7 linked regions of the Homo sapiens genome follow. The protein of the gene in region 4 interacts with the protein of the main gene of each other region in a pairwise test. Each region holds a gene or a part of one and is shown on either strand. Other genes may lie near its edges.

What was found.
Region 1: the proteins of STRIT1 (region 4) and TMEM51 interact in binary tests that used the Homo sapiens proteins (3 or more experiments, as listed by UniProt).
Region 2: the proteins of STRIT1 (region 4) and MFF interact in binary tests that used the Homo sapiens proteins (3 or more experiments, as listed by UniProt).
Region 3: the proteins of STRIT1 (region 4) and KCNK5 interact in binary tests that used the Homo sapiens proteins (3 or more experiments, as listed by UniProt).
Region 5: the proteins of STRIT1 (region 4) and EDA2R interact in binary tests that used the Homo sapiens proteins (3 or more experiments, as listed by UniProt).
Region 6: the proteins of STRIT1 (region 4) and SLC38A1 interact in binary tests that used the Homo sapiens proteins (3 or more experiments, as listed by UniProt).
Region 7: the proteins of STRIT1 (region 4) and SLC14A1 interact in binary tests that used the Homo sapiens proteins (3 or more experiments, as listed by UniProt).

The regions. Positions count from the first base shown.
Region 1 is NC_000001.11:15,156,747-15,160,246, reverse strand, and holds part of TMEM51 (transmembrane protein 51), read right to left. Parts: intron 1-3,500.
Region 2 is NC_000002.12:227,328,251-227,331,750, reverse strand, and holds part of MFF (mitochondrial fission factor), read right to left. Parts: intron 3,074-3,500; 5' UTR 2,962-3,073; intron 2,146-2,961; exon of another isoform or gene 2,006-2,145; coding exon of another isoform or gene 1,968-2,005; intron 1,126-1,967; coding exon of another isoform or gene 1,086-1,125; coding exon 905-1,085; intron 1-904. UniProt on the Homo sapiens protein: Plays a role in mitochondrial and peroxisomal fission. Promotes the recruitment and association of the fission mediator dynamin-related protein 1 (DNM1L) to the mitochondrial surface.
Region 3 is NC_000006.12:39,191,476-39,194,975, forward strand, and holds part of KCNK5 (potassium channel subfamily K member 5), read right to left. Parts: intron 3,286-3,500; coding exon 3,119-3,285; intron 2,863-3,118; coding exon 2,694-2,862; intron 281-2,693; coding exon 1-280. UniProt on the Homo sapiens protein: K(+) channel that conducts voltage-dependent outward rectifying currents upon membrane depolarization. Voltage sensing is coupled to K(+) electrochemical gradient in an 'ion flux gating' mode where outward but not inward ion flow opens the gate.
Region 4 is NC_000003.12:155,290,884-155,294,987, forward strand, and holds the start of STRIT1 (sarcoplasmic/endoplasmic reticulum calcium ATPase regulator DWORF), read right to left. Parts: upstream 2,801-4,104; 5' UTR 2,750-2,800; coding exon 2,737-2,749; intron 156-2,736; coding exon 61-155; 3' UTR 57-60; intron 1-56.
Region 5 is NC_000023.11:66,618,579-66,622,078, reverse strand, and holds part of EDA2R (tumor necrosis factor receptor superfamily member 27), read left to right. Parts: intron 1-3,500. UniProt on the Homo sapiens protein: Receptor for EDA isoform A2, but not for EDA isoform A1. Mediates the activation of the NF-kappa-B and JNK pathways. Activation seems to be mediated by binding to TRAF3 and TRAF6.
Region 6 is NC_000012.12:46,185,804-46,189,043, forward strand, and holds part of SLC38A1 (sodium-coupled neutral amino acid symporter 1), read right to left. Parts: coding exon 3,167-3,240; 3' UTR 1-3,166. UniProt on the Homo sapiens protein: Symporter that cotransports short-chain neutral amino acids and sodium ions from the extraccellular to the intracellular side of the cell membrane. The transport is elctrogenic, pH dependent and driven by the Na(+) electrochemical gradient.
Region 7 is NC_000018.10:45,750,601-45,753,020, forward strand, and holds the end of SLC14A1 (urea transporter 1), read left to right. Parts: 3' UTR 1-1,577; coding exon of another isoform or gene 1,578-1,622; 3' UTR 1,623-1,920; downstream 1,921-2,420. UniProt on the Homo sapiens protein: Mediates the transport of urea driven by a concentration gradient across the cell membrane of erythrocytes.

The sequences.
Region 1 (3,500 bases), on a different chromosome or scaffold from region 4:
TATCAACAAATCATGCCCCACACCCTAACCAGCACAGGCCCAACCTGTGGGTTCCAGGAAAAGGTAGGATAAGGTAAGGCAAGTAAATTCCACCTGCTTCTCTACACCCCTCCCTAGACCACATGTGAGGAGAAAAACATGGAAAAGACATAAAATTGCCCAAGATTTAGAGCCACCTAATTTTACCTGTTGAGGAAATAGCAAAACCTCCTGGAGACATCCAGAACTGCACATCATGTGAGTCCACGATCTTAAAAAAAAGAACTTGCTCCCTGTGGTGAGTTCTCATTCTGCCAGGTTCTGCCAGGATTTGGTGACCCTGGGCTTATCATCTCAAAGGCCTCTCAGGCCAGGGGATGGGCCTGGGAAGCTTCCATTGGTAAAGCTCTGGGGACATTAAAAAAAGAAGAAGGCTAGGTGTGGTGGTTCATGCCTAGGCCGAGGCAGGCGGATCACGAGGTCAAGAGATCGAGACCATCCTGGCCAACATGGTGAAATCCCATCGCTACTAAAAATACAAAAATTAGCTGGGTGTGGTGGCGCATGCCTGTAGTCCCAGCTACTAGGGAGGCTGAGGTAGGAGAATCGCTTGAACCTGGGAGGTGGAGGTTGCTGTGAGCCAAGATTGCACCACTGCAGTCCAGCCTGGCAACAGAGCGAGACTCTGTCTCAAAAAACAAAACAAAACAAAAAAAGAAATGCCAGAACAGGGTTATTAACTCTTCTTTGTTTGAAATGTGGCATTGAAAAAATTAATGCTTTGTGCATCTCAGCAATATAAATTGGGTTGTTGGCACGAGAGCGACAGGCTTTAGGATAAACATGAATTCCTAGTGCACGCAACAGTGAGGCCTATGGGGGTCACAGGCTGCACCGTGAACGTGTGTTTTGAGTCGCTCATTTGTGGAGGGGTCAAGGGTCTACATCTGCAGATTCTCCTCAATGTGAGGCCTGAGTGCTACCTCCCCTGCAGCAAAGGCCCCAGCCTCTGTTTTGTGGCCTCAGTTTCTTCTAGGAATTGAGGAGGCTAGACGAACAATGGCTTCCAACTTTCTGTTTTATTTTTAAAGTCACAGAGTTTTAAAAGTGGATGTTTTGTATCCTTAGCATAAGCCGAGCTTCCTTCCTGTCGGCCCTGCCTCCACCACTCAGCTCTGTCCCTGCAAACCCCTGAGTTGCTTCTAGGACCCATCCAAGGTTTCCCAGGATCACAGTATAACCGGAGCTACATTGCGCAAGGTTCTTACCATGCAGGAGGAGAGACGTTTTTACCTAGTGACTCAGTGCACATCCACAAACAGATAACTGAAAGTTTTACTAAGGAATATTTCTCGTGACAGGAAATGCATGCTATTTTCTAGTCCACTGTCTTCTACTTCACTTTTAAAAATCCAGCGGAAAACCACTCAACGATGCTCAAATCCACTAGTAAGTGGCTGTCCATTCTGTGAACATGAGCTTAGAAAATCCCCAAGATACGAGTACTTCCAGTACTGATGATTTATGGCATTAACAAAGCTGTGATCCTGGTAGAGAGAGACAGAGACCCCGCCCCATCCTGTTCCCAGAATGGGGTGTCCTACCTGAATCACCGATTAGGAAACAAATTCTCTGCACATCTTTGCTATTGAAACGCCTACTCTGCAAGAGCCAGGGTTTGGAGATGAGCATGCCAAATACCGATTTTTCTAGAGACCTGCAACTTGCCTAACCCCATGCCTAATCCCAGGGAGATTTGGGGCAAGGGGCAGTGATGGTGGGGTGGCGGCACTTGGATGGGTTAAAACAAACACAGCAAAAATAAACACATAAAAGTCAGAAGAAACAAAGCTGTCTCCCTCCCTCTGTATGAATTTGGGTCACACGCATCACACCCAGATGGCCCGTGGCTTCCATTTCTAAGAGTTCAGAGAGAATTGCTTTCCCAAACCCCATGGTGATGCAGAAAAACGGCCCTCTGGACTCCCACAGTGGTGAATTGGAAACGTCTTTGCACTTTGCACAGCGTCACAGGGTTTTGGCCAAGGGAATACCTGCTAGCCATCAAGGGGTGGAAGCACGTGAGACCTACAGGTTAGATCCTGCGTGAAGTCACTCACATTATCTCATGAAGATAACAGGCACTGTAATGACGAGTTGAAAAACCAGGATACGGGCTGGGCATAGTGGCTCTTGCCTGGAATCCCAGCACTTTGGGAGGCTGAGGTGGGAGGATCACTTGAGCCCAGGAGTTCAAGACTAACCTGGGCAACACACAGAGACCTTGTCTCTATTTTTTCAAAAGCAACAACAACAAACCAGGACATGAAACAGCTCAGCAAACAAAAACCTGAATAAAACGCCACCATATTAACAGTGGTCGCCAGCCTTCACGATGTCATCTGCTCGTTTTTACAAGGAGCACCTACTTCTTTTGTAATCTGTGGACGAAGACAACTTTAAAAGCCTGCCATCCAAAGACACATTATCAAGTCTGGCTAAGGGAGTGCCAGATAAATGCACTCACTAGCTCATGCCGTGGTGTTAATGCCAGTTTGAACAGACAGGACCTGGAAATGCGCAGACACACTCCTCAATGTGCACACCTCATCTTTCAGGACCCTTGGCCCTTACTCCTCCTGACCATGTCACCACGGATGCCACAAAAACACCTGGTAGTGTGAAGTGCAGACAGAAAGGGGATCTTGGAGGGGGAGGGTGCCCTGTTTTGTTTTTCAAGAATCATCCTCAAAATCATTCAAGACAAACTCTGGAACCTCGGGTTCTGGTCCTGGCTGTGATCTCAGGCAAATCTCCTCTTCCCTGGGTCTTGGTCTCCCCAGTTGTCAAATAAGCAGAGTGGATTTTCTGATGGCTAAGATCCCTCTGGCCCCGATATTCTAAGATCTGAAGCTACGCATTCAGGTTTAAGGGCTGCTAAGTCTGATAAATCCAGGGCAAGAGAGAATGTGGAGACTTTAGGTTGCTCCGCCCAAGTAAACACCACAGACAGAAGGTGAGGACCAACCAGCAGTCTTGAGACGGGAGCTGAGGGGAGGAGTCGAGGGTCAGGGGAGCTCAGCAGAGACCCTCAGAGGGCTATCTCTGGTCAGCATCTTGGGGCTGTCTGGGAGGGACAGGGCTGTGTGGCCTGGTATTGGGAAACCAAACAGGTGGCTTGTTTCTTCCAAACAAACGGCCTGTTTTCTTTCTCAGGAGCAAGAGCTCCCAGGAGGGGTGGCCATGGCAGCGAGGGCTCAATCCAGAGGAAGGGAGAATAAAACATTGGCAGGGGAGGCTGCACCACCTGTCCAGGCTGGGGAGGAGCTCAACTCTATGAAGCCGCTTGAAAGACTGAGAGGTTGAGAAACCTGGGGCCCAAAACAGTCTTGGTCCCGAATGTGGCCAGGTCTCCTGGGTTAAAGTAAAGGGCCCTAGAAGGGAGTCAGGAGGGCTGGGTTCCAGTCCCAGTTCTGCTGCTGAACTGTTGTGTGTCCTTGGGTAAGTCCCATCCCCTCTCT
Region 2 (3,500 bases), on a different chromosome or scaffold from region 4:
AAATTATTAATAATCAGGGAAATAGAATTAACATCGCAAGATGGCACTACACGCCCACTCAAACAGCTAAAATTAAAAAGACTGACAATACAAAATGTTGGCAAGGATGTGGAGCAACTGTAACTTATTCATCACTGATGGAATGCAACATAGTACAAGAATTTGGAAAACAGTTTAGCAGTTTTTCAAAGTTGAAAATAACTTGTATATAATCCAGCAATTTCACTCCTAAAGATATGAAACCATATGTCCTCACAAAGACTTGAACCTGAATATTCACAGTGGCTTTAATCCTAACAGCTTCAAACAAAAAGCAATCAACGAATGAAGATGAAGGAAAAACAAATTATGGTGTATCCAAACTGAAATATTACCCAGCAATAAAACTGAATGAACAACTGATATATGCAACAACAGAAGAATCTCAAAAACATTACACTGAACAAAAGAAGACAGATAAGAGTATATACTCTATGATTCCATTTACATGAAACTCTAGGAAAGACAAATCTATTCTCTGGCTATAGAAAGGAGATCATGGTTGCCTAGAGTTGAGGGGTAGGGACTGAGTGAGAAAGAGGCACAAAGGAACCTTGCAGAGTAACAAAAATGGTCTCTATTTGGACTGTGGTGGTGGTTATATGGGTGTTCACTTTTGTCAAAACTCATCAAGTACACACTTAAAAATGTATACATTTTATGTGTGTAAAACCTCAATAATTAGTTGAATTACTAAAAAATACTGTTTGCAATTCAGACTATAATAATGAATAGAAATTTCAAAAGTATAAAGTTGCATTTTCCAACTCCTTTTCTAAATAACATTTAGAAAAACTCAAAAGTTTTCATAGAAACATATAAAACAAAGATTTAACAGGCAACCTTCTAAGTAAAGGTGAAATACCTGCTACAACAATCCTCTCCGGAACTTGCATTATCACACTAGCATTTGGAACTCCTTCTTGGAATCCTTGTTCCAGGTCAGCGTTTGGCGGTGCTACTTTTAACTTTTCTGGGACCCTCATTCGCTGACTAATGCCTTCAGTATATTCCATTTCGTACTGAATTCGACTAATTTCTGCCATCTCAGCAGCAGTGGGAGAAGGAAATGCTGCCCTGCTCACCCTGTGGGAGAAAAATTTAAAGACAGGGCTGACTGTTAAAATGTCAGTCTCCTCTACGCAGTGAAGTTAGAAGACAATACCTTATAGAAAGAGCGAAAGGAAACTTCTCATTTGCAAGTACTGAACACATACAAAGCAAAAATAAAAGATGAAAGAAAATGTCTTCCTCAACAAAATGCCTTCTTAATTATCAGCTGAAATTGTACCTTGAGGATATTGCTTAGGAGCAAATTTTTTAAATTATTATAGAATTACAACACAAATGTGTACACACACATACACACATACTCTCTGCGTAAACATGCATGCTGCTTGTAACTAAAAAAATGCCTGCAATAAAATTTAAACTTAAAATTTCCTCATCAATTTGAGGGAAAGCTGCTTGGACTTTAAAAATATAAAATTAAAAATTACTGTCATGCATGAAAAAATAAAACCTTTAAATGACAAATGCATCTGTTATTCAAAACCTTTAAATGACAGATGCATAACATTAACTCTGAATTTACTAAAAAAGAAGATGCAACTCCCTGAAAATCACATCATACAAACTAAAACTTCTCCTAATGACTGAGATGCAATGAATACCAAATTTAGAATTTGTAATAATAAATCCTCATGTTTGTATTCATTTTTGGAGGGACTGAAAGTTTTACACTATTAATCTGTATTTAATATCATATTTACATGTGTTTTTTTTTTTAATGCAGTAGAAAGAATGTTGCCGCCAATACAAAAGCTGATAAAAATGTAAAAGAGCATGGTTAGCCTACGGCAGTAAGCTTTAAAGCCATTGTCTCTCAAACCTATAATACCAGCTCAACTGAATAAAATTTCACTGACCTTCCTAGTGATGTGTCACTGCTTGTTCCTTTACTCATTTAAATACAGTAAATACAGGTCTATAATAGCTATTAAAATACTGCTACCCTGCAGTTCAGTTTACTTTACACAACAATTCCCCTACACATTTGAACTTTTTTTGGAGGTGTACATAACAACACGGACACTGCTTTTCCAGCTGTAAAAAAGAAAGAATAAAAATCAGTATTTCAACAATTCATTTCATAAGAAAACTATGAATAAAAGTAAATATCTACGTAAAATGACTTTTGGATTTGAACATGGCTTAGGGCTTGATTTGAGAAACCAATTGTTAAATCTATCCTAAGAAGAGTTTTTCTATACCTCAAAAATCATAAAGACAGTTGTAAGCACAGTCACTGTCTTATGATTTTGCAAACAGGATACAGAGAAGCTGTATCAAATGTATATACAAATGTGAAGTCAGATTCGAAGAAAACAATACTGCCATAAAACTCCTCTAATCATTATACTCCAAAGGGGAAAAATCCTTTTTTAAGACTAAGCCCAAATGAATAAATCATGAAGGGAATACAAAGGGTAAAAAGTAAATGTAACTGAGGCAGCCTACATATTTGACGTCTAATGGTTTCTTTAAATAAAAATAAACTTCAAAATTTAGGGTAAACTTCAAATGGAAATTACACTAAATTTTCAGCAAAGACACTATATATAAATTAAAGACATAAAAAGTTAAAGACAGTATACATGACTTTACCATGGCTAAGGTATTTCCTAAACTCCATGCTGGAGATATAGCCCCACCCTAAGCCCCCGCCTCACTGAGATGCCTAGGAGAGCTCTTAGAGGTTGCTCAGGACGCTCAGCCCCAGCAACTGGTTTGACTATGACTGCTAACTCACATCTTTTATTCTTTATCAAAAAATCTCTGGGGACATAGATCTTTAAGGATTTGGCATGCAGACGATTTAAAGACTAAGAAAGTAAGCCAAAAGGGACCATTTTTACTCACAAATGTGTAACAACTACTGCTTGCTATTTGGCACTATCTGCTTCTGTGCTTCATATTAAATCCTTTAACTTGCTTCAATGTGCATGTGCTGGATTGAGAGCCACTTTTGTCCCTGGGGAAGAAAAACAGGGGCTAATTGAGAAACTAGATGAAACCACTATTAGGGATTCATTACTGGAAATTCTCCAAATAGTAACAGTCACAAAGATGCACAACCTGACATCAAGAGACCAGTAAGAAAATAAAGAAAGAAAAAAATTAAGCTTACCACCAATCTTAGTTCCACAGATGGGGTCCTACAACTATTCATTAGTTAAGGCAATATAAAAGACTAGCTCTGTCATTGTTTCTGATTTGTATTTAGAAAAATGTGGCAGATGAAAAATACGTAAGTTTAAATGAATCTAATACTTACGTATATATATGCATATAGGTACACATATATGTTAAAGAAGAACAAATGAATTGGTTTTTTTTTTTTTTTTTTTTTTTTTGTCACCCGGGCTAGATTGCAATGGAGCTTCCTGAATAGCTGGGAC
Region 3 (3,500 bases), on a different chromosome or scaffold from region 4:
ATGAGGTCGTTGTAGGTCTCTTCCTTCTTGGAAAGAAAGCTGAAGATGTTGACGTCCTTGGAGGCTGTGCTCCCCTTCACCTGCAGGGCCTTCCGGGAGTGTGGGGAGCTCTCAAAGGACTCCTTCCGTCGCCGCCGCCGCTTCTTAATGGCTTTGTGGACTTCCACAAACATGCTCACCTTCCAGTTGACAAAAAGGGACAGCCAGGCCAGCCCCAAGTAGATCCAGAGCTCCACGAAGTAGCGGTACAGGGCGTGGTAGTTGGCGCTGGGGTTCACACCTGAGCGGACAGGCAGTCCAGAGGTCAGGAAGAGTTAGCAGGGCCCGGGAAATGTGCAATGGCCAATGCTGTGTGATCTGAGCAGGGGTCAGGCCAGAGCACAGGACGGGGGTGCAGTGGGATAGAAAGGGGCCTGTTCTAGACCCTGGACTATCCCATCTTCCTCAAGGGCTTGGGCCTGCCATCATTCATGACCCCATCCCAGTCTCCAGCCTGTCTCTGAGTCTCGGTTTCCTCAACTAGAAACGTCAAGACAGGCCAGGCATGGTGGCTCACGTCTGCAATCCCAGCACTTTGGGAGGTCAAGGCAGGTGGATCACTTGAGGTCAGGAGTTCGAAACCAGTCTGACCAACATGGTAAAACCCCAGCTCCACTAACAATACAAAAATTAGCCAGGTATGGTGGCGGGCCAGCTACTCAGGAGGCTGAAGCAGGAGAACTGCTTGAACCCGGGAGGCAGAGGTTGCAGTGAGCCAAGATCACACCACTGCCACTCTAGCCTGGGCAGCAGACAGAGACTCCGTCTCAAAAAAAAAAAAAAAAAAAAAAAAAGTCAAGACAGTGACTCTTTGAAGGAAGCTAAAGGGGCTTTGGGGGACTGGCAATGTAACCGACACACAGGTCAAGAAACAGTTCATGAGTATTTGCCTTTCTGTTAATTCTTCTACCATCCCCAGCTGTTCTGCGTATATGATACAGTTCACTTAAAAACGGAATGGATGGATATTACACAAGGGAGCCCCCAGCACCCTCCAAGCTGGGGCTAGACTCACACTGGTGGATTACAAACAAGGCTGGTGGTTAGGTTGAGATGACCCAGGAAGCACCCACCGTGGCAAGAAACGCTGAACCATTTTTATTTTCATTGAAGGTCTGGTCTGCCTCCCTGACTTCCTCAGATCAGCTCTCCCTTGACCTGGAGGAGGGCTCTGTCTGCTCCACATCCCCCTCCTGCTGCAGGGAGCCTTCTTGGCTTACCCCCTACAGCTCTGAAGGTTCCCCCTACACTCCAGGATTATTTGAAATGTCGTTGACGACTACATGTACAGGCATGTTGACCTGTATTCCATTTGCCCCCTCGACTAGATACAAGAGCAACTTACAGAAGGGACCTGGAGGAAGGGGGCTACCTCTCTCATCAGACTAGAGGTTCCTCCAGGTGCTGTAGCCCGGTCAGTTCTCCTCCCACGACCGGGCTCAGATAGCAGGTGCCCTGAGTGGTCCTGTTAATCCTGCTCAAGGCTCTCAATCACAAGCAGAGTTTCATGATGACAGTAATGAGGGCACACACTGATATAGCCAGGCCCTACCCTTAACACTCATGAATAGTAATTATTATTTTTACTAATTTTACAGAAGAGAAAGCTGAGGCAGGGTTTGGTGTCTTGCTGGTGCTGAGAAAGTATGGCTAAGTGTACATCTGTATTTCCCTAATACCAGAGGCACCTCCTTAGCCTGCTCTGGGCCTCAAGGGCTGGACAATGGCAGGGTTGTGCCTTGTCCACATGTACTGCCCAGGACAGCAGGCCCGGACTTGGCAGGGTCAGGGGAGTGTTTGTGCCTCTCTTTCCTGTTCCTCCCCCAACTCAGCCAACTGCTCCCAGATGCCACATACATCAAGCACAAGGCTAGTGGCCTCCCACTGCCCTCTGGGCAAAAGGGAGGGGGTACAGAACAGAGGCCTCTGGAGCAGAAGTTGAGGTCACTGGGGTGGTGGGTCAACAGGGTCAAACAGGGTGTCAAGAAGATTAAGAACCAAGATGCTGTGCAGGCCACAAACACAAGTACATGTGTGGCTGGGGCCAGCTGGTAACAGGCCTTCAGACAAAGGGGCCAAAGAACCTCATCACTTCCCTGGATTAAGCAGGGGAGGAGTAGGAGGGAGTGTCAGGGCTGGGGGCAGGGCAGCTGGGGAGAAGGCCTCCCTTGTCTTTAAGCTGCTACAGCAGGAACAAAGCCCCAGGCCTCTGAGCCATGCCTTCAGGACACCTCCCTCCACTCTTGTGAAAGATGAAAGGCTGCTGAGGGCGTGGAGTGGGTGCTGGTGGGCTCAGGGGCTCCCTGGGTAGCAGGTACCAACCGTGCAGGCAGAAGGCCCTACTTGCAAGTCCCCCATGAAGCCAAGCTCAGGAGTCATGGGAGAACTGAGGGAGAGGAGATCAGAGACTGAGCAGAGAGGAAAGGAGGAGGAAAAAGGCCATGTCTGAGAAAGGGAACCAGAGAGAAAAGAGTTTTTTGTCATTACTCTGGGTCTTAGTTTCCTCTTGCAAATGGCAGAGTGGGTTGAGAATCCCACTGGGTAAGAGAAGTGCCCAGAACATGGAACCCTACCTAGGGCACCCCCAACATAGGTCTGTTGCACTGAAACCAAAGAAGCAGAAAAAGAGGTGGGAGGCAGAGGCAGGGACTCACCGGCCACAAAGTCACCGAAGCCGATGGTGGAGATGGTGATGAAGGAGTAGTAGAGGCCCTCGATGTAGTTCCACCCCTCAGTCACCATGAATACGAAGGGTGGGATCACCAGGTGGACTAGGACGCCCCACACGATGAAGATGACTGTGCACGTGATCTGCGCCTTCCGCTGATGGGGAGCAGGAGGCCAAGTCAGAGAATAGTGGAGACTTGGAAACCCAGCAAAGGCACCCAGAGGGCCAGGGAGGCAGCTAGAGGAGAAGCTAGCTGGGTACCCAGCCTGACCCGGGAGGGCAAGGAGCTCTGAAACTATCCTCTTGCCATCTGTCCTTACACCCTTGGTCCAATTCCTAGAGGCCTCCTGTCCTCCCCTCACCTGTCATGGTTCCCCCATCTCTGCCCAACACCCAGGGTAGGGGACATACCAGACTCACACCTCTCTTGGTAAGGAACTGCCCTAGTCTCTTGGCACGTCCCCCGAAGAACTTGCCCAGGGCACTGATCCACGTCAGGCAGAGCGGCACCCCGAAGAGACCATAGAAAACACAGAAGAGGCGACCGGCGGGGGTCTTGGGAGCCACATTGCCATATCCTGAGGAAGGAGAGAGTGAGGCCAAGAACAGGAGGGGTGGTCAAACCAGTGGGCCTTGCTTCCAACACACACACAGCCCGTTCTCTAAGATAAATTGATATTGATCTATTGTCAGTACTTAAGTAATGATATTTCCCTTGATCATACTCTGATCATGATCATTGATAAAGCAATTATGATGACATGAGCTGTATCTCCTCCATCATACAAGGAGC
Region 4 (4,104 bases):
ATTGTTTCTGGAGTAATTTAGACTATAAATAAACATTCAATTATTAAAACCCTTACCTTTCTAAGAGAAGACAACATAAATCATTATGATGCAGCCCACAATCCAGCCAATCAGGAGAAGAATAGGAACCAGAAGGTGTGAAAATGTAGACCCCGCTTTAAAATAAACCGTAGAAAACAGATTATATTGGTCATTTTCATATTAAATTTTCTGTGTCAAGAGAATAAAAGGAATTTGGTAACATTAAGAAAAAAGCATACACTCTCTAGTTATACCCATACATAATTATTTTTTCTTTTCTACAGAGAATACGTGAGACTGTCATAAACCCTGGGTATTTTGAATCAAACCATGGGTCTTTTACTGTTATGTGACCTTTGGCAATTCTGGGCTTGAACTTTCCTACTGGTAAAATATGAATAATGAAACTTGTGCTCTCTACCTCCTGGAATAGTTTTGAACATCAAATGACATAACATATGTGCAAAGCTTTGTAAACTCTAACCACCGTGTGTGTTTAGTGTATACAGAACACATTCATGCATTTGTGCAATAACATATACAGCAGCTATTTATATAAAAAACAATCTAATACAACTCTGAGGCAATTCCCACTAAAGTAAATAATTATAACACAAGGAAAGGTATTGAGAACTGTCCTTGGCCTCAATAGCTGAATGTAATTTTAAATATCACAGGGAAAAGGAAAGTATCATACATTATGTAACCATTCTTGACTACAGAAAAGAATTTCTATTGTTTAAAAATTGTTCAGTATAACAACCAGCACTGAACCTGAATCAATGGGCAGTAATAATCCAACACACACATAAATGGCGTTTGTTATATATGATTCCTTCTGTGCCTCCTATTTGTACTCTTACCTGTAAAAAGCAATTTATACAAGTATCTTTTTTAAAGTATGCACTGCATGTAACTCTTGTTCTTTCAAGCAAACATACACAGGCATACACACAGAAATCCACACCTACATCACACAAAAAGATTTAGAAAGAGCGCAGAAAAACATTCTATGGAATTAATGTCCCTGTGTTAAGGACTCAGATATATTCTTAACTGCAAAGCATAATTAGATCTTATGCCATTAGTTAAAAGAGAGAATGCATATTCTTAGCAATTATACTCCTATTACAATTTCCATCACTTTAAAATGTGAAATTTTTAAAAATGCTATTAAAATAAAATCATCAGGAGATGAGACACATTTAAAATTAGAAGACACTTTTATAAAAGCAAACTTTCTGAAGTTGAAATAAATTTTAATACTTTAAATCAATTTTTCCAAGAATGCTAGAGTCTCTCTTAACTGACAAAATTCAACATGCTTTTCTTGTTTCTCCATCTCACTGTGACCTTGTATAAGGCATTAAGCACTAAATGGAAAACTCTTCTCTTTACTTGACATGTGGTATTGCTTAAGGATAAAGCAAACAACATGAGTTGCCCTTTACTCTCATTTGGACGAAAGCCTTTTTATGAATTAAGGTACCATTACAATGGAAGTACATAGCAGTAATTTTTTTGAACTGTCTAGGTATGTGGCTTTATATTTTTCCCAATTTCAAAGAATTTGAAAATTAATATTAACCCTTTAATTGTGCATTTATATTTTATACATGCATATTTTAATAAAATTTACATATCACAAAGCCCTAAAAGTATCTCATTATTTACTTTCCTTGTAAAATAGTACCAGTAGCACTAACTGTGCATTTTAACACCCAAAGTATACATTCCATTGTTTTTTTAACACTAATGTTTTCAACTTTACTAATACCTGTGGAATTGTTTGGAAGTAGAAATACGTAAGAGCACAACATACTTTGCATATGTCACTTACATTACTAGCACAAATAAGAACAAAACATCTCTTAAACATGAAGTGTAATTCTAAAATGCTTCTCTCTTGTCCAGTTCTGAGCATATCAAAGTAGTTACAGCTGGAAGTGTTCTTGAGGACACTGTGCTCTGGAAAAGACTGTCCAGGTTAAACACCTGGTGCCACCACTCTTTAGCGATCATGAACAAGTTACTAAACTGCTGTGTCTCCATTTTCTTATCTATAAAATGGGGATGATGATGATATGCATATTTCACAAGGTCATTGTCAAGATTCAAAGCAAAAATTCCTGTTTAATATTTAAAAACCATTTCTTAGATACAGTATATATTCAACTTTTTGACAAATTGGAATCAATTATTTTATATAACTATAAAATATAAATACAAAAAAATGTTTAAAAACCAGAAAAAAGTTAGATGTGGAACAAAAATTTTAGGTGTGGAATAGATGCCTGAGCCCAATATTCTCATTTTACTGTCAGAAAACAGACTCAGAGAGGTATAGGGACTTCTGCAAACTCACATAGCCATTTACTAGCAGGTCTGACACAGAACTTAACTGTCTTCAATTCTGGCTCAGAATTGAAATCAGGAGAACTGATTTCTAACTCACCTTTCAAAATAAGTATTAACAAAATTAAGCTCTTTTCCTTTGTTGATCATTTTAAAATTATTCATAACCTATAGACCTGATCCATAGATTACATAATTAATGCATTTTTGCAGCCACACTAACATATATGGTTAATGGTCATTTAGCATAGATATCACATTTTTTAGAGTGACTGGGAAACACCAAGAAACATAAATGAACCAAAGTCAAGAAGCCTTTTTTTTTTTTTTGCCAAGAGAATCCTATGCCTTAAATCTTACCTTTTTCAGCCATTATTCCTGTTGGTGGGTGGCTAGGTCAGGCCACGCTTACCTCTTTCTTTTGTTATCCAGCGTCTCTTTGAACTTTAAATAGAGAGAAATCTGAAGATTGCGGCAGCTGCCCGTCTCCTGGCTGCCAATTGTCTGCAGAGTGATGTAAGTCATGGGAAAGCAGAACTCCTCTGGCTCTTTATTCTATTATTATGGAGGAAACGAGGGGCTACATGACCTAAACAATTAGGTAAGCTGAATTATCCTAATGCAGATATTCGCAGGTTTTTAATTTGCACCATGCCTTTAGGTAACATGAAGAAAATGTTCTATAAAGAAGGTGTACAGAGGAAAAACAACATTCCACCTATACAAGTGCTATCAAGGAGAAGGGTGATATATTAGAAAGAAAGGATTTTGATGTTGGAGAGACTTGGGTTCAAATTCCAGCTCTTTCTGTAATGAAAGCCAAGTTGCTTAACCTGGGAATCAGCTTCTTTAGTTTTAAAATGAGGATAATAATACCTACTCATGGGAGTCGCATAAAGATGAAATGAAAGTCTGTATGAAATGTAGACAGTTCTTTATTACTTTACAGGTGGAAAACATAAAATGAAATGGTGCCCCTTTCTTTGAACTATTCTAAAACAAAAAGTGTTAATATAAATGTACTAGAAACTAAAACAATACAGACGTCGCCTAGAATTTTTAGGAAGCAGTCATAAGCTTGTTGTTTTTATTAGCAATGTATAAAAATAGGACATTTCATTTTTCAAAGTCCAAACTGGTTTATGTAACTGACCTAGACTATTCTCTATATTCTCATTGGAATAACTTTAAATTGGGGATCTGGCTGGAAAAGTTTTGCAGAGTGACCCTGTGAGCATCTTCCCAAAAAAAATTTGACATAAGATTAAGACCTGTAAAGGCAGGTCTGGCCTGATCAAATTTATCTCCACAGAGTTCCAAGAGTGATATTGCCTTGCAAATGACCATGTTCCATCACTGCTCAAAAATCCACCAATAGTTCTTCATCTCCTAGACAATAAAAATCCCAACTCTTTGTTTAGACACCTAAAAACCCTTATTTCTCTACTCTTCCATTTGCAGTGATAACTTCAGTGACACTGAACTCCTTGCTATTATATGAATTCAGAATCCTCCCACTCTCACAGGCAAGAAGAACATTTGACTTTCTACCTCAAATAATGTACCTATAGATTAGAGTGTGCAGCCAAGAATCTGGCACATTTATATCATTTATGTCAAGTTGTCATCTCTCTCCTCAGTCTCTCTCTCAATATATTATTTAATATTGAAAAAATGTCTGGCTATGTCAGGTAAGCAGAAAAACTACGTATTGTTTATGCAACAAAA
Region 5 (3,500 bases), on a different chromosome or scaffold from region 4:
CTTGGATAAGTTTGGGTGAGAAGTTGGATGAATCAAATTATATTTGGAGGCCTGTGTAAAAATATTCATAGCAGCTTTAACATTTTTTGGGGGGCTAACTTAAGCAATATCCTATTGGAATAATAAATTCAAAGTATTAAATAAAGCTAAAGAACCATCTTTTAAAATGAGATATAATTCACATACTATAAGATTTACCTTTTTAAAGTGTATAATTCACTAGTTTTAGCATATTCACAAAGTCACACGACCGTCACCACTGTCTAATTCCAGGGCATTTTCATGACCCTAGAAAGAAACATACCTATTCAGCAGTCACTTCCCATTTCCCTTTCTCCCCAGGCCCTGATATCCACTAAAGCTAGTTTATGATTGATTGCCTATTCTGGACATTTCATGTAAATAGAATCATACAACATTTGTCCTTTTGTGTCTAGCTTCTTTTATTTAGCATAATGTTTTCAACGTTCATTCATGTTATTGCACATGTTAAGCACATCATTCTTTTCTCTGACTGAATAATTTTCATTGTATGGATAAACCACATTTTGTTTACCATTTATCAGTTGATGAACATGTGGATTTTCCCCACTTTTTGGCTATTATAAATAATGCTGCTAGGAACATTTGTTTACAGGTTTTTGTATGAACACATGTTTTCAATTCTTTTGGGTATTTACACTTAGGAGTGAAATTGCTGGGTCATGTTGTAACATGATGTTTAACATTTTGAGGAACTGCAAAATTAATTTCCAAAGGGGCTGCATCATTTTGTATTCTCGCCAGCAATACACAAGGGTTCCAGTTTCTCCACATCCTTCTCCCCCAGGCTGGAGTGCAATGGCACGATCTCGGCTCACTGCAACCTCTGCCTCCCGGGTTCAAGCAATTCTCCTGCCTCAGCCTCCCAAGTAGCTGGGATTACAGGTGCCTGCCACCATCCCCGGCTAATTTTTGTATTTTTAGTAGATTCAGGGTTTCACCATATTGGCCAGGCTAGTCTTGAACTCTTGACCTCAGGTGATCCACCTGCCTCGGCCTCCCAAAGTGCTGGGATTACAGGCGTGAGCCACCGTGCCTGGCCGGCTATTTTTTTTTTTTTTTTTTTTTTTTGGTAGTGGATATAAAGTGCTGTTTTATTGTGGTTTTCATTTTCATTCCCTTTGTTGCTGATAACACCGACCATCTTTTCATGTGTTTATGGGCCATTTGTAAGTCTTAGAGTGATATCTATTCAAATTCTCTACTCATTTTTAAATTATCTATCTTTTTTTGAGTTGCAAGAGTTTTCTATATATTTAGATACAAGTCTCTTATCAGATATGTGATATGAAAATTTTTGTGTCCTATTATGTGGATTGTCTTTTCACTTTCTTGATGGTGTCCTTTGAAGCACAAACATTTTTAATTTTTAAATTTTGTTGACATGTCATTGTTCTGTTTTTCTCTCTTGTTGCTTGTGCTTTTGTTGTTATATCTAAGCAACTACTTCCTAATCCAGTGTCACAAAAATTTACACCTATATTTTCTTATAAGAAAAACATTAATTACAGAATTATTATGTTTTCTTGTAAGAAAACTTTTATAAGAGTTTTATAGTTTTAACTCTTACATTTGGGGATTTAGTCTATTGTGAGTTAATTTTGTATATGATATGAGGTAGGGGTCCGATTTGATTCTTTTGCATGTGGATATCCAGTTTCCCCAACACCCTTCTTTGAAAAGATTTTTTTTCTCATTGAATTTTCTTGGCATTCTTTAAAAAATCCATTGACCATAGTATAGCAACTCAATTTATAATGGCCTCAAATTAAAAGCAGTCCAATGTTTGCCAAGAAAAATATATAAATTGTGGTATATCCATACAATAGGATACTACACAACAATAGTAATTAACAAATGTTGCTACACAAAACATAATGGATAACTATCACAGACATTATAGTTATCAAGAGAAACCAGAAACAGAAGAGCGCATCTTGTATGATTCAAATTTATGTGAATTTCAAGGACAGGTATAACTAATTGTAGTGATAGAAGCCAGTGCTGTAATTATCTGGGGAGGAGTCGATATTGACTGGGAAGGGGCGTGAGGGAGCCTGCTGGGGTAATAGAAAAGTTCTGTGTATTTATTTGGGTGGTGTTTACATGGGCATGTACACAGTAAAAATTTATTAATTTATTTAATCTTTATGCTCCTTACTATGTATATGTTGTACTGCAATCAGAAACAGACAAAAAATCCCAGCATGTTACCCACATGAATTTTTAGAGCACTTCCACATTACCTCATCTGTGTAACTTCTGAGTTACACAGATCAGATATTCTCTGGGCAAGTTGGGAAGTTGGAGGAAGTATTTCAGGGTGTAGCTGACAAACAGTACAACTGAGTGGGTGATGCGCTTTAGCAGAATCAGAACCTCATCATGTGTTATACTCCATGGGATTGAGACAAGAGGCATCTGCCACTTCCCTTCCTCTCCCCAACCCTCAGTAATGTAAAGAGAACACAACCCCATGTCAGAGTTGGGGTGAAAAAAATGTTCTTGAGCAGCCATAACCTTAGGTTGTGGAGGTGAGAGGGACTGTTCTGTGGAAAATCATGTGCTATTTCATAAAGTCCATAATAACATCCTCACTTATTTGCAAATCTGATTTTATTTCTTTTTCACTTCCATTTCAAAGGCAATTGTCTCGGAAAAGTTTCCAAACGTTTGTTGACCAAGTTAATCCTATACAGAAATGCCTTGATGAAAAAAATCCAGCAAACACTTAGAACAATGTTTCTTTTAGCCAAGGTGGCTTAGGCACTGAGGGTATCTTGGAGAATCTTTTCCTTAAGCATCAGGTCACTGGTGGTTGCGATTAATGAGGAGGAAACTGCTATAGTGGCATCCATCTTAAACATGGCCTTCATGCTCCAGCTGAAATGGTCAATGAAGAAGCTTGGGTGCCTTTCCTTTTTCTTCCCCACACATCCCAAAAATGACAAATGTGCACTCCTTTTACTATAAACCTCACTCTTCTGAAGAGGAAAGAAGAAAGGGAACCTGCTAATTACCAAACGTCTCATATGTATCAAGCCCTATACTTGGTCCCTTAATATGTATTATTGCATTTAATTTTCTAAATTACTGTGCAGTATATTATTTAAACATCCATTTTGCAGATGAAAAAACTGATGCTGACAAAGGTAAAACTATTTGTTTGAGGATGCAGAATTAAAATTAAAACTCAAGTCTACATGTCCCTAACTAAGAGCTTTGCTCTTTTTTTGATGGATGTGAGGTTACTACTATTGTTTGGAAAGTCATTATCTTAAAGAGAAATGATCTATGTTGCTAGATTCATATGCATAGTTAACCATAGTCCAGGGAATGTAGCATGTTGATAAGCTAACAAATAGTAAGCACTGTTGAGGTACACACTCTGTGCCAGGTGCAGGGCTAGGCACTGGGCATGCAGTGGTCTCTACTCTTGGGAACTTTATAGGTCTGTA
Region 6 (3,240 bases), on a different chromosome or scaffold from region 4:
TCCAGCAGTCATGGACTTATTCCTCCCCGTTTTTACTGGACACCATGTTTCAGGCCAATCTGGTCACCTGTAGTCTGGTGGCATCTCTACCCCTACTGTCCAGTAGGTGGGATGTGGCTGGGATGGACAGTCCAGATTCTACTAACAGGCAACTCTGAACAAACACCCTCCCTGGAAACAATATTATATTTGATGGTTAGATTCTTTAGCAAACCTATTACATTATTCGATGTCAGCTAACCTATTGGTTTGATCATCTTTTCCAGCTGCTCTAGGGGCCTAACCACCATGGATAACCTGGTCTCTAAAGGAAAATACATTCCAGGTTGCAAACAACCAACTGACAACCTTTTGGAATATGATCTCCTTATACACTGGGGCTGCCTGTGCCTAAACACAGTAGATTTCCCTCCTGTGCGTATTTCATCAGCCCCACTTCCAATAAGTAACATTAAGTAAATTAGGGATTGACAGTATTCTGTGTTACAATAACTAGAGAACAGTTCTAAGTCCAAAGTGTGGAACTGGCACTGTTCACTAGTATAGAGATCCTACCTACCAAAGGAAAACGTGCTGCTCCCCATGCCTAGGGTATAGTATTCTTTAATCTACTAATTTAGCAGAAAAACTTCCATAGCACTTGACTGTGCTGTTTAAATTCGACCTAACATCTGTGATACATGTATTTTTGGCTACCAATTAACTATTCTGAATAAGAATAAGAGCAGTATACTTTACAGCTAATCTCACACAAAGGATGTAACTAATCAGTGATATTTGACGAATTATGGTAGGGTCTATTATATTCAGTCAACAACAAATTTAGAGAAACATACAAAGGTTTTTAAAAATATGGGTGGTGTCACACAGATCAACAACACTGTGCCTCCTCTAAATAAATCTATTTTAAATAAATATTCCTTGTATTGACACATGAAACCCAGAGGCCCAAAAATATCACTACACATCCCAGTTAATGATAAGGTTCTAAATTGACTTTGTGAGGGTAAAATGAATTGCTATAAAGTAACAAGGAAAATAGAAAGTAGCATAATATAGCTTGCAAACTAAATTATGTATTTTTAAAGGTACAGTCATCCCACTACCTGGCTATTTCATTACTTGGTGCTCTAGACAAGCTCCCAAGAACTGACTGGATCTTGGCTTGTTCTGTTTCTGTCATTGCTAATATAATATGGAAAACATTGCTGAAAAGAACAGAGATGGCCATGGATATGGCTAGGTTAGGTATTCATATCCAAATATCTGAACTCTAACCTAATGTGGATATGATTCTGTAGCATTATATTAAAAGCTATGATGATGCAATGCAGGAAATAACCTTTCATTCTCCCCCCTAGAGGATCACGACAGGTGCTTCAATGCCTGCCTTATCTATGGGACAGTAGTGTGATTCTCAGTGAGAGTGAAGGCCTTTGGGGATTTGAGTCAGGAAGGGAACATGGCTAAGTGCCTGGAAACTCTGCCAACAGTCTGCGGTTAGATTCTACTTGTCTCTGGATAAGAAATCTGTGCTCAGTGAACTTATGTGTTTGGAAAATTTAACCAGAATATAGAGGAAGCATAAGTCCTGTTTCAAGAGACCAGCTCACGGAGCATGCACATTTCTCACCATAGGCAAGCTATGGACAATTCAATCACATGGGATGGCCCCACTTAGGGGAATGCAGTTCTGGGTTTCCTTGCTATCCCTATTCTTTTTCAGCTACAAACTCTCTTCTTTTTCAGTCTCTTCAGTTTCCTTGTGCTCCCTTTAGGAGAGGGACAAGGGTAAGAGTACCAGGCAACTCTGTCCTCCTGCATGGACAGTTGAGACGGGCAGTAATGGCACAGTCCTTGGTTGGGGAAGAGAAGAGGAGACAGCACAGACACTGAGACCCCCTTGTCTTCCTCATCTGGGGGAAGGAAGGTACTCAGTGATTCTGTCAGAAGCTCTTCACAAAGACTATCTCTGAGGGTTTTTTTTTTTTTTTTTTCACAAGACTAGATGGAGAATTAATGAAGAAGAAATAGAAATGAGGCTTATTTAAGGTACAAAATTCTTGTATTTGTAATAACCTAGATTTATAGATATAAAACAAGTCTTTTAAAGACTTCCCTAAAATACTCAATATAAAACAGGAGTTACTTATCCTAGATCATCCTTAGTTAGGTACACATGATTCTCTGTGCAACTAGCTGGTGGACATGAATAAAAGCTGCTGGGCCTATAATGTACTAAAACATTTTTCTCCCTTCAGCAAGACAGGTAGGGTTGAAGGCTAAATGCATCAGAGGAGTATTTTCTTAGGCATTTTGGACAATCTTTTTGCAGTAGGTTCCATAGGTTTTCCCCAGCGAAAGTTGACTCAGACCAGAGTAACTCTGACACAAGTTGCCAAGAGGGAAAAAATACTTCATTTGCTAGATTACCCAAATGTGTAGCTTCATTTAATTACCAAGGTAAGAATCATCCCCAACCACTTTTCAGCTGAGAACACTTGCCAGAGAATGTCTCTGGATGGGAATAGATGTGGTACCAGCTAGGCCACTGGACTACCCGAGTTCAGCTGCCAGGAAATCAGAGCCACCTCAAATATTGGGCATGCTCTGATTCAGCAGTGGCAGTGCCCTATAACTTTCAGATGATTATCTCCATGTGCTATGTTAACCAAAATAGGCAAATTATTTACGAAACCATTTTTTTCTGTAAAGCAAAATAAATATATACAATTCAAGATTCTTTTCTCTTCTAAAAAGGTACAGATAGTGTGAGCTGAACATCAGTAGGAAAATTATTTCAGAATCTGGATGTATAATAAATAAACATTATTGTATATCATGTTTTCAAAGTTCTAAGAGACCGGGAAGCCACAAAACATAGAGTTAGATGGGTAAAAAATGATTGTGAAAAGTACTGGGAAATATGATTGTATGAAATTTGAAAAAAAAATTTCACAATCCCTAAATTGATCTCAAATCTTGGAGGGACATGAAGCATTATAGAACCATGTCTCTGTTTTGCAACCAAAAAGTTATTCCATTTTAAGTATCCTGTACATTTCTGTTTGCTTCTGTAAACTTGCAAAAGAAGTGGTGAGAGATTGCTGATGTGTGGGGACTTGACTGAGCAGACAACAGGGATGTTTCTTTTTCTCGGCGGGTTTCAGTGGCCTTCGTCACTACTCGATGAGCAGGCCCAGTCATAGATGACCAAGGGAATGCTGACCAAGGAGAACA
Region 7 (2,420 bases), on a different chromosome or scaffold from region 4:
TTGTCAATCAAAATTATTCTGTATTGCAACTTTTCTCAGAGATTGCAAAGGATTTTTTAGGTAGAGATTATTTTTCCTTATGAAAAATGATCTGTTTTAAATGAGATAAAATAGGAGAAGTTCCTGGCTTAACCTGTTCTTACATATTAAAGAAAAGTTACTTACTGTATTTATGAAATACTCAGCTTAGGCATTTTTACTTTAACCCCTAAATTGATTTTGTAAATGCCACAAATGCATAGAATTGTTACCAACCTCCAAAGGGCTCTTTAAAATCATATTTTTTATTCATTTGAGGATGTCTTATAAAGACTGAAGGCAAAGGTCAGATTGCTTACGGGTGTTATTTTTATAAGTTGTTGAATTCCTTAATTTAAAAAAGCTCATTATTTTTTGCACACTCACAATATTCTCTCTCAGAAATCAATGGCATTTGAACCACCAAAAAGAAATAAAGGGCTGAGTGCGGTGGCTCACGCCTGTAATCCCAGCACTTTGGGGAGCCCAGGCGGGCAGATTGCTTGAACCCAGGAGTTCAAGACCAGCCTGGGCAGCATGGTGAAACCCTGTATCTACAAAAAATACAAAAATTAGCCAGGCATGGTGGTGGGTGCCTGTAGTTCCAGCTACTTGGGAGGCTGAGGTGGGAAAATGACTTGAGCCCAGGAGGAGGAGGCTGCAGTGAGCTAAGATTGCACCACTGCACTCCAACCTGGGCGACAAGAGTGAAACTGTGTCTCTCAAAAAAAAAAAAAAACAAACAAAAACAAAAACAAAACAAAACAAAACAAAACAAAACAGGTAAGGATTCCCCTGTTTTCCTCTCTTTAATTTTAAAGTTATCAGTTCCGTAAAGTCTCTGTAACCAAACATACTGAAGACAGCAACAGAAGTCACGTTCAGGGACTGGCTCACACCTGTAATCCCAGCACTTTGGGAGATGGAGGTAAAAGGATCTCTTGAGCCCAGGAGTTCAAGACCAGCTTGGGCAACATAGCAAGACTCCATCTCTTAAAAAATAAAAATAGTAACATTAGCCAGGTGTAGCAGCACACATCTGCAGCAGCTACTCAGGAGGCTGAGGTGGAAAGATCGCTTGTGCACAGAAGTTCGAGGCTGCAGTGAGCTATATGATCATGTCACTGCACTCCAGCCTGTGTGACCGAGCAAGACCCTATCTCAAAAAAATTAATTAATTAATTAATTAATTAATTTAAAAAGGAAGTCATGTTCATTTACTTTCCACTTCAGTGTGTATCGTGTAGTATTTTGGAGGTTGGAAAGTGAAACGTAGGAATCCTGAAGATTTTTTCCACTTCTAGTTTGCAGTGCTCAGTGCACAATATACATTTTGCTGAATGAATAAACAGAAATAGGGAAGTAAACCTACAAATATTTTAGGGAGAAGCTCACTTCTTCCTTTTCTCAGGAAACCAAGCAAGCAAACATATCGTTCCAATTTTAAAACCCAGTGACCAAAGCCTTTGGAACTATGAATTTGCAACTGTCATAGGTTTATGGATATTGCTGTGGAGAAGCTCAATTTTCAGTGTTTGAACTGAACCCTTTCTTGTTAGGGAACGTGTGAAAGAAGAATTGTGGGGAAAAAAAAGCAAGCATAACCAAAGATCATCAGCAGTGAAGAATCTAGGCTGTGGCTGAGAGAACCAGAGGCCTCTAAAATGGACCCGAGTCGATCTTCAGAACAGGGATCTACCATGCAGGAGCTTCTTGTGCTCACACAAATCTGTAAATGGGAACATTGTACATTGTCGAATTTAAATGATATTAATTTTCTCAAGCTATTTTTGTTACTATTTTCCTAAAATTGAATATTTGCAGGGAGCACTTATACTTTTTCCTAATGTCTGTATAACAAATTTCTATGCAAGTACATGAATAAATTATGCTCACAGCTCAGTTTTGTATAATGTGCCATTTATAGCCATCATGTATATGAACAATCACAGGCATAAGTAGGTATCGCTTATGTTGCACGTGCTAGAATCCTTATTCCTTTCTTACACTTGGTAATAGCACCAGATGTATAGTTGAGTAAACCCTTTTCAATTTCAGATTGGCAGGCCCATCCCCTTGGGTATCCTCTCAACTATCCATTATTCTTTCAACTCCTGGATGAGAATGAATAACTGAGGACAGTTGTTCAGGACATGCTCCTAACACTTTGAGATCAATATCCCAAGAGCCACTTCTATGCATTCCCAGACAGGCCCTGGGCACCACCATCAGGGCTGACCCTGGGCCACAGCATGCCTCAGGGGTCAGCTCTCTAGGACCAGCCACTTGTCAGAATGTTATCCCCTGAGGCTGAAGCCACAGCCATGCTTGTCTCTTCCACAGAAGCACTTCTCTTCCACACCCTTTCACCACAGTTGGCAGATTTGAAAGAAAATATGGTA